Linked DNA regions of Homo sapiens. The protein of the gene in region 1 purifies or fractionates together with the protein of each later gene. This does not show direct contact. Each region holds a gene or a part of one and is shown on either strand. Other genes may lie near its edges. The genes, in order: TBL1X and KIF11.

Region 1 (3,824 bases):
CCAAATTGTTAGGGAAAACAAAAAAAAAAAATCCCAAGGAGGAGGGTTTTTCCCCCTTCCCTGTTTGGTTTATCACAGCATTTTGCTTTTTTTTTGGCACAGCTTTTTACGTTTCTTTCCATTCAGCCATCACAGAGCCTGTTCCGGGTGGAAACCAATCCACACGCCTCGAGCTGGTGACTTCCTCCTTCCCAGGCTGAATGTCCTCAGTGGAAACCATTCTATCCCCGTTTGATATGATTTGCTTCTGTTTTTGCTTGCCTTTTAAAAACTTCTTGATGAAGATTACGAAAACATATAGACTCCTGCGGCCAGAGACGAGTTGGTTTCAGAGTACACTCTAACGCAAGTCAAGTTCCTACAGTTTTGGAGAATAGAGCTGCAACCCTACACATTCACGGCTGGTCATTAGAATTCTTTTCTTTTTTCGATAATATTTTGTGGTTACTTCCGCAGATCCAAAACACACACCTGGAAGGAAAGATAAAGCACCTGTCATCTTGAGAGACAATACAAAGATGCCTTTAGAGTGAGAAGTCGGCAAGCTACGGCCCCCACGCCCAATCTAGCCCTCCACCGATGTTTGTCAGTAAAGTTTATTGGAACATCGTCATGAAGGGTCAGAGAAGCTCTCATAACAGACTGGCATCTGGACATCGGACCGAGCAAACTGAAGCAAACAGCACAGAGCAGAAAGGCCAGGTTAAGGGTAATGATAGGAATTAACAGAGTGGCAGAGGTCCCAGAAGGGACACCTGCAATCGTGGGGCAGATGACAATACGAGCCCAAGTACACAGCCTCTGACAACATTTGGGGACTACTCTGACCCTTGGCCGTTCAGCCAGAACGGCCGCTTGCCCCAGAGGTCAGGGCAACCTCAAGTCCAGGGGAAAATAAGAAATCCAGATGCCCCATGGGAAGAGAAGAGGGCCCAGGAGACCTGCAGGATGGCCACCAGAGGCCCGGGCTTCTCAGCCACAGCATGGGTGACAATTGTGGCCACCCTGTGCACAGTAGGAGGTTTAGCAGCATCCTCATCTAAGCACAGTCACGCGTCACATAATGACGTTTCCAGCAACAACGCACCGCACAGACCGCAGTGGTCCTGTAAGATTATAACCATATATCTGCTGAACCTTTTCTATGTTTAGATAGATCCGGACGCACAAATGCTTACCATTGTGTTCTGGTTGCCTACAGGAATCAGTATGGTCACCCGCTGTCCAGGTTTGTAGCCTGGGAGCAATAGGCTGTACCACACAGCCTCGGTGTGGGACAGGTATTATCATCTAGGTTTGTGTCAGTCACTCTATGATGTTCAGACAAAGATAAAAGTGCCTAATGACACATTTCCCAAAACGTTCCCGTCATTAAGCGACACATGACTGTAGTGACAACCTAAAATGGCTCCAGATATTGTCTAATGTCCTTAGAGGTGCAGAATCACCCTGGTTGAGAACCACCAATTTGACTGAGAAAATGTTGACTAGAAGGACACTCTGGAAGGGACAAGGAGAAGGCCATTCCCAGATGTGGTACCAACTCCGATGGGATCCAGCCCAGAAGCTTCCTTTGGCACTGGGCTAGGCCCTTCAGGACACGAATGCTGCACACGCCCTGGAAGCTCACTTAGGCATCAGCTGCCCCCAACACCCCACTCCCCAGCAAACCAGAGGTGTTGCTTACAGAGCCGTCGGACGCGCTGGCACCCACTTTGTCTCCTCGGGCGTTCCAGCACACCTCGAAGATGCCGCCAGTGCCTCGGTAGCTGTGGACAAGATTTCCACTCTGCAAAGCAAAGCAGCTGTCACTTACAACGCAAGGGGCGCCTGCGACAGATGCAGGTGTGGAATGTGCGCTCCTCCGGCCCTGACGTTTCGTCATGAACATTTTCAAGCATGGTGAAATTTAAGGGTTTTCAGTAAGGACTCTGGGGGCCATGGAGATGTGCCTCTAGGACTTCCCACCACGAGGAGTGAACCTGATTACTTATGCCTGCGGAATCTGCCACATTTGCGTGGATTCTGAGGCTGCACCCAGCTGAGGACTGATGGAGGCGGGAGACCATGGCAGTCACCTGCTGAGACTCAGACTCATCTGGTGGGTAAGTGGCTCATGGACTCTCCATCAGCACGACCAAAACTTTCTACAGACCTGTAAGGGCCATCCCTGACTCTTCCTACCCTTCCCGTCTCCTTCCCAGGGTCAGACTGGCCTTATGGTCTGAATTCTCCCTTCCCCCTACCTTCCTCCCTGTTTCCATCACAGCTCTTTCCCCCAATAAATCTCTCGCCCATCTAATCCTGTTCTGGTGTCTGTTCTTTGGAGGACCTGAATGAATACAACATAATGAATACACCCACCCCAGTAGCAATTAAATTGACTGTAATTCATGATTAAATGTAATAATATGCCATGACATTAAAATGTACGTATTTTTGGACATTTGAAAGAAGAAATGCATAATATACATGTAATGGAAAACACCACAGACCATTGGTTTCCGGTTTAAAACAGCATTAACTTGACAAATCTAAGAGGTAGGGGAAGTTGAGGCCTTTGAAAGAGTTGAATAAGGCCAGGCGAGGTGGCTCACCCTGTAATCCCAGCACTTTGGGAGGCCGAGGCGGGAGGACGGATTGAGCCCAAGAGTTCAAGACTAGCCTGGGCAACACAGTGAGACTTCGTCTCTACAAAAATTAATTTTAAAAAATAAAAAAGAGAGAAAGAGTCGAATAAGCCTTCACTCATGATTCACTATGGTGACAGGCAGGAGAAATCTGAACACCGAGACCAGGAGGGCTGTCCCAAATCCTCTGCTCAATTGGGCCCCTTAAAGGGTGGTGTTCCATGAACTGAGAAAGGTGTGTGTCGGCAGTATTACAGATAAGTATTTTTATACTTGGAGAAAGATTAAAGTGGGCTTTAAGATTTCTCTTAAGAAAATTCCTAAGGATTTCTTGGCCGGGCGCGGTGGCTCATGCCTGTAATCCCAGCACTTTGGGAGGCCGAGGTGGGTAGATTGCCTGGGGTCAGGAGTTCAACACCAGCCTGGCCAACATGGTGAGACCCCGTTTGTACTAAAAATACAAAAGTTAGCCGGCTGTGGTGGTGCGCACCTGTAATCCCAGCTACTCGGGAGGCTGAGGCAGGAGAATCGCTCAAACCCGGGAGGCAGAGGTCGCAGTGGGCCGAGATGGCATCACTGTACTCCAGCCTGGGTGACGAGAGTGAAACTCCGATCCAAAAAAAAAAAAAAAAAAGAAAAGTCCTAAGGATTTCTTTGATTTATAAAAAAGGGTTGAAACAGTTCAGTGAGTTCCTGACAACAGGCTGTACCTAACTGATCATGTCATTGTTTTGATAATTGATGTGTTCTTTTTACAAATCCACCCATTACTATTTCTAGCGAGGATTTCAGGAACGGAGACTCTTGGACACTAGTGCTGAGATGCGTGCTTCCCGGAGAGCTATCTAGGGCTGTGGGGCTGGGCTTGGCGTCGGGTTGGCTCTACGCAGGGTCCACCATTTCCCTTCCTTCCCTGAGAGGATGTGGTTCACATGAGGTCCCTGGGAAGCCTGTGATCTCAGTGGACCCCTTGCCAGTGAACAGGGCTCATCACCATTGAGTCCACAGGGGGAATGAACTTGAGGGTATAAATCCACCTGAATGTCAACCAAGCCAAAAGGAACCAAGAAGGCAGTGCAGATGAAAGGGGGCAGGGGGAAGGCTGTGTGATTCCTCCCCTCCTGAGGCGAAAGGGACCCCTTCCTTATTTTCAACAGCTCCTAGCATATTATCACCTCTCTCTTCCCTTAGACT
Region 2 (3,824 bases), on another chromosome or scaffold:
ATGATCTACATACTATTAGATGCTCACAGGGTCTCAGTTTCCTCATTAAAAATCTGACTAGTAATAGAATTTATATCTATATTGATGGGAGGAATAAACACAGTGAATTGCTCAATAAATGTTAACTATTATAAGAGTTCTGTCATATTATAATAAGCTCATTTAATAAAACTTTAGACAGTCATTATTAAAGTCTTAAGAATACCAGAAGCTGTTTTTCAGATATCTGATATTTACAGATTATGGTTTGAAGGCTTGGTTTTGGTTTAAAGCCTCATATAATGAGGAACAGTTTACAGGGAAGATAAATCATGAATTACATTTATAATCAATAAGAATTAAAAGTTGTATCGATTTACTATGTTTTAAATGTCTATCAGTGAGACAGAAATAAGAGAAAGTAGGACTTGGTTTATGAAAGACAACTATCCATGCCATCCTAGAAACAACTTAGCAGGTTTTAATGTAGATACATTTTCACTTTAAATGTTATAACCATTCTTCTCTAAAGGTATGTTTTTCCAGATTCATCTTTCATCTTGATGTGAGAAAAGGACTGTTTTGTCATATTGTGGTTCTGCATGGGGTTCTAGATGTAGCAAAACTTCAAATATTAAGAGAAGTATTCTCAATTGTTCTACAATAATTACTGTTATAAGCAACAGTGGCTATGGTATTTTCAGGTTTCAGCTTTTACAGTATTCAGATTGTGTAACATAGATTAATTATCAAGTCATATCAAATCATCCTAAAACTCTCTTTCTGTACTCCCCAAGTCCGCTAAACAACATACCTGGGAATGGGTCTGCTTTATTGTCTTCAGGTCTTCAGTTAGGTTTCCACATTGCTTTTGTGACTCAACCAAGGAACAAATGGTATTTTCTTGTAGTTCATGTAGATTGTTACACAGTATACTGAGAAAGCCATCTAGTTCCTTTTTTTGATCTTCTATCTTTGAAGAAACAAAAATGAGTTTCCTTCTTAAACAACACATCAATTTTGAGATATTAAGAACATAGCATTTGTTACCTTATCGGCCACTGTCAATGAAGTCTTGAAAATATGCTTTAGTTGACTATTGATTTTCAGTATAGACACCACAGTTGGGGATAAAATCATTTCCAGTGAACTTAGAAGATCAGTCTTGAGTACATTCTGGTTTCAGAAATAAACAAATAGGTCTTTAAAAAGAATATTTCCACTTCTGTAAACCTTTCTAAATGATATCTTAAATACTTTGGTAGCTAAACATTCACATTAAAATTTACATTTCCATTCTCCATTCTTTTTTTTTTTTTTTTTTTTTGAGACGGAGTCTCATTCTGTCACCCAGGTTGGAGTACAGTGGCAACATCTTGGCTCACTGCAACCTCTGCCTCCTGGGTTCAAGTGATTCTCCTGCCTCAGCCTCCGGAGTAGCTGGGATTATAGGTGTGAGCCACCACACCCAGCTAATTTTTGTATTTTTAGTAGAGATGGGGTTTCGCCATGTTGGCCAGGCTGGTCTGGAACTCCTGACCTCAGGTGATCCGCCCCCCGTGGCCTCCCAAAGTGCTGAGATTACAGGCGTGAGCCACCGCGCCCGGCCCCATTCTCCATTTTTTATACTCTACATAGATAAATCAATACAATAATACAATAATTTATTATATTACAATAAATATAATAATTTCTCTTTTTTCAAGCCCAGTGAAAACACAGAATTTCTTTTTTTCTTTTTTTGAGATATAGTTTCACTCTCGTGGCCCAGGCTGGAGTGCAATGGCGTGATCTTGGCTCACTGCAACCTCCGCCTCCTGGGTTCAAGCGATTCACCTGCCTCAGCCTCCCAAGTAGCTGGGATTACAGGCACCTGCTACCACGCCTAGCTAATGTTTGTATTTCAGTAAAGACAGGGTTTCACCATGTTGGCCAGGCTGGTCTCGAACTCCTGACCTCAAGTGATCCACCCACCTTGGCCTCCCAAAGTGCTGAGATGAGCCACCGCACCCAGCCAGAACTATTTAATAGTTTAATGAAATAGAAGTCAGAAGAATTCAAAAGAGGAAAATGACAGTTAATAAGATTTCAGCACTCCAAACAAAATAAATTTTTAAAAACCTACAGGTATATTTTAAGAAAATAAATTTCAAACAAGTTTAGGTTACCAGTCAAAAAGGCTGAGACCAAGTAGTCATCAAGATTAGCCCTTGGGCTGGAAGTACTTAACTTTGAAGATCTGAGATGACTTACATCCTATTGTATCAGAAGAACTTGTGAAAGATGTTGTTCTTGTCAAGAAATAGGGAAATTAAGAATGTAGTATAGATTGGAAATATTTATAAAAAGAAAAAAAATCCTGATCTAATCTCCTTTTGGTAGGATAGGGCTGAGGAAGTATAACAGAAATACATTAGTAAATACTTATAGGTCTACTGACATTCTTTTGGAAAGAAGAGCTAGCATACCAATTTCAACTAATTTTGTGAGAGCAACATGCCTCTTTTCTTTTAATTCAAGCAAAAATTGTAACTTGGTAAGTAGAAATGTATCAATTCAGGCATAGCTTATTTTATTGTGCTTCACCTTACTATGTGTCACAGATACCAAATTTTTACAAATTGAAGGTTTGTGGCAACCCTACCTTGAGCACGTCTATCAGTGACTTTTTTCAAATATCATGTGCTCACTTTCTGTCTCTGCATCACATGTTGGTAACTACTACAGTATTTCTAACTTTTTCATTATACACTGTGATCAATGATCTTTGATGTTACTATTGTAATTGTCTTGGGGTACCATAAACTGTACCCCTATAAGACAGCAAATGTAACTGATAAACGTTGTGTTCTGATTGTCCCACCAGGCGTGTGCTGGAATTACAGGTGTGAGCCACTGCGCCTGGTCAACATAACCTTTATATGCACCGGGAAAGCAAAAAATTCATGACTTGCTTTATTGTAATATTCACTTTATTGCAGTGGTCTGGAAGCAAACCTGCAATATCTCTGAAGTATGCCTATATATATACAGACCACCATTTAATGAATGAATCAATATTTGAAAAGTTAGTACTGACAGGATATCTTTTAATTTTGTCAAATTTGGGTGATTGAGAAAACCTATCAAATAATGTCATCTAAGCACTGAATTGAGGCAGAGGGTCAGCTAACATTTGTAGTATTTACTTGGAAAATGTTTAATAAATATTGTTAAGCTGAAAAAGGGAGGCAAAGACTCTGCACAAAGAAAACAAATAAATTATATGGCTAAGAACTTCCTAGACCAACCATACAATTATAAAATAAAGACTATATATAAATCAAGTATGAAGGAGGTAATATTAAGTGCAATTAGATGAGTGACTTCCATAGAACTCTGGAGAAAAGATTTATAGTTATGGCCCAGAAGGGGCCACACAGATCTAACCCTAAGAAGTGATATGTGTCCCCAGAATTCTAAGATATTTTTCTTGCACCATTATTACTATCATATATTACTGTAGTTTTAAAATCAGCTACCCAATATCCCCTTCTGGTTGGGTCCAGGACCCCTGGGGAAAGAGTGACTTGCCAATTTCTGGGCCAACTAACAAGTCCCTTGATATCATGTGGTGCTAAACTTGCCCTTTAGTCATTAGAAGCCTCACTAATAACTGCTACTCCTAATGTTACAAGACATGAGTGAAAAAGGTTTCAAAAGTTAGTTCCATACATTTGAAAATAATCTTTCTGGGAGAGAATAAACAGTGGAGAGATCTGTCTTTAAAAATATAAACGTACTCTCGGCCGGGCACGGTGGCTCACGCCTGTAATCCCAGCGCTTTGGGAGGCCGAGGTGGGTGG

The links.
Region 2: the proteins of TBL1X (region 1) and KIF11 fractionate together in Homo sapiens (co-fractionation; one large-scale study listed by BioGRID). This does not show direct contact.

Annotation. Positions count from the first base shown.
Region 1 is NC_000023.11:9,712,867-9,716,690, reverse strand, and holds part of TBL1X (F-box-like/WD repeat-containing protein TBL1X), read right to left. Parts: intron 1,790-3,824; coding exon 1,688-1,789; intron 472-1,687; coding exon 445-471; 3' UTR 1-444. UniProt on the Homo sapiens protein: F-box-like protein involved in the recruitment of the ubiquitin/19S proteasome complex to nuclear receptor-regulated transcription units. Plays an essential role in transcription activation mediated by nuclear receptors.
Region 2 is NC_000010.11:92,634,515-92,638,338, reverse strand, and holds part of KIF11 (kinesin-like protein KIF11), read right to left. Parts: intron 1,156-3,824; coding exon 1,030-1,155; intron 953-1,029; coding exon 794-952; intron 1-793. UniProt on the Homo sapiens protein: Motor protein required for establishing a bipolar spindle and thus contributing to chromosome congression during mitosis. Required in non-mitotic cells for transport of secretory proteins from the Golgi complex to the cell surface.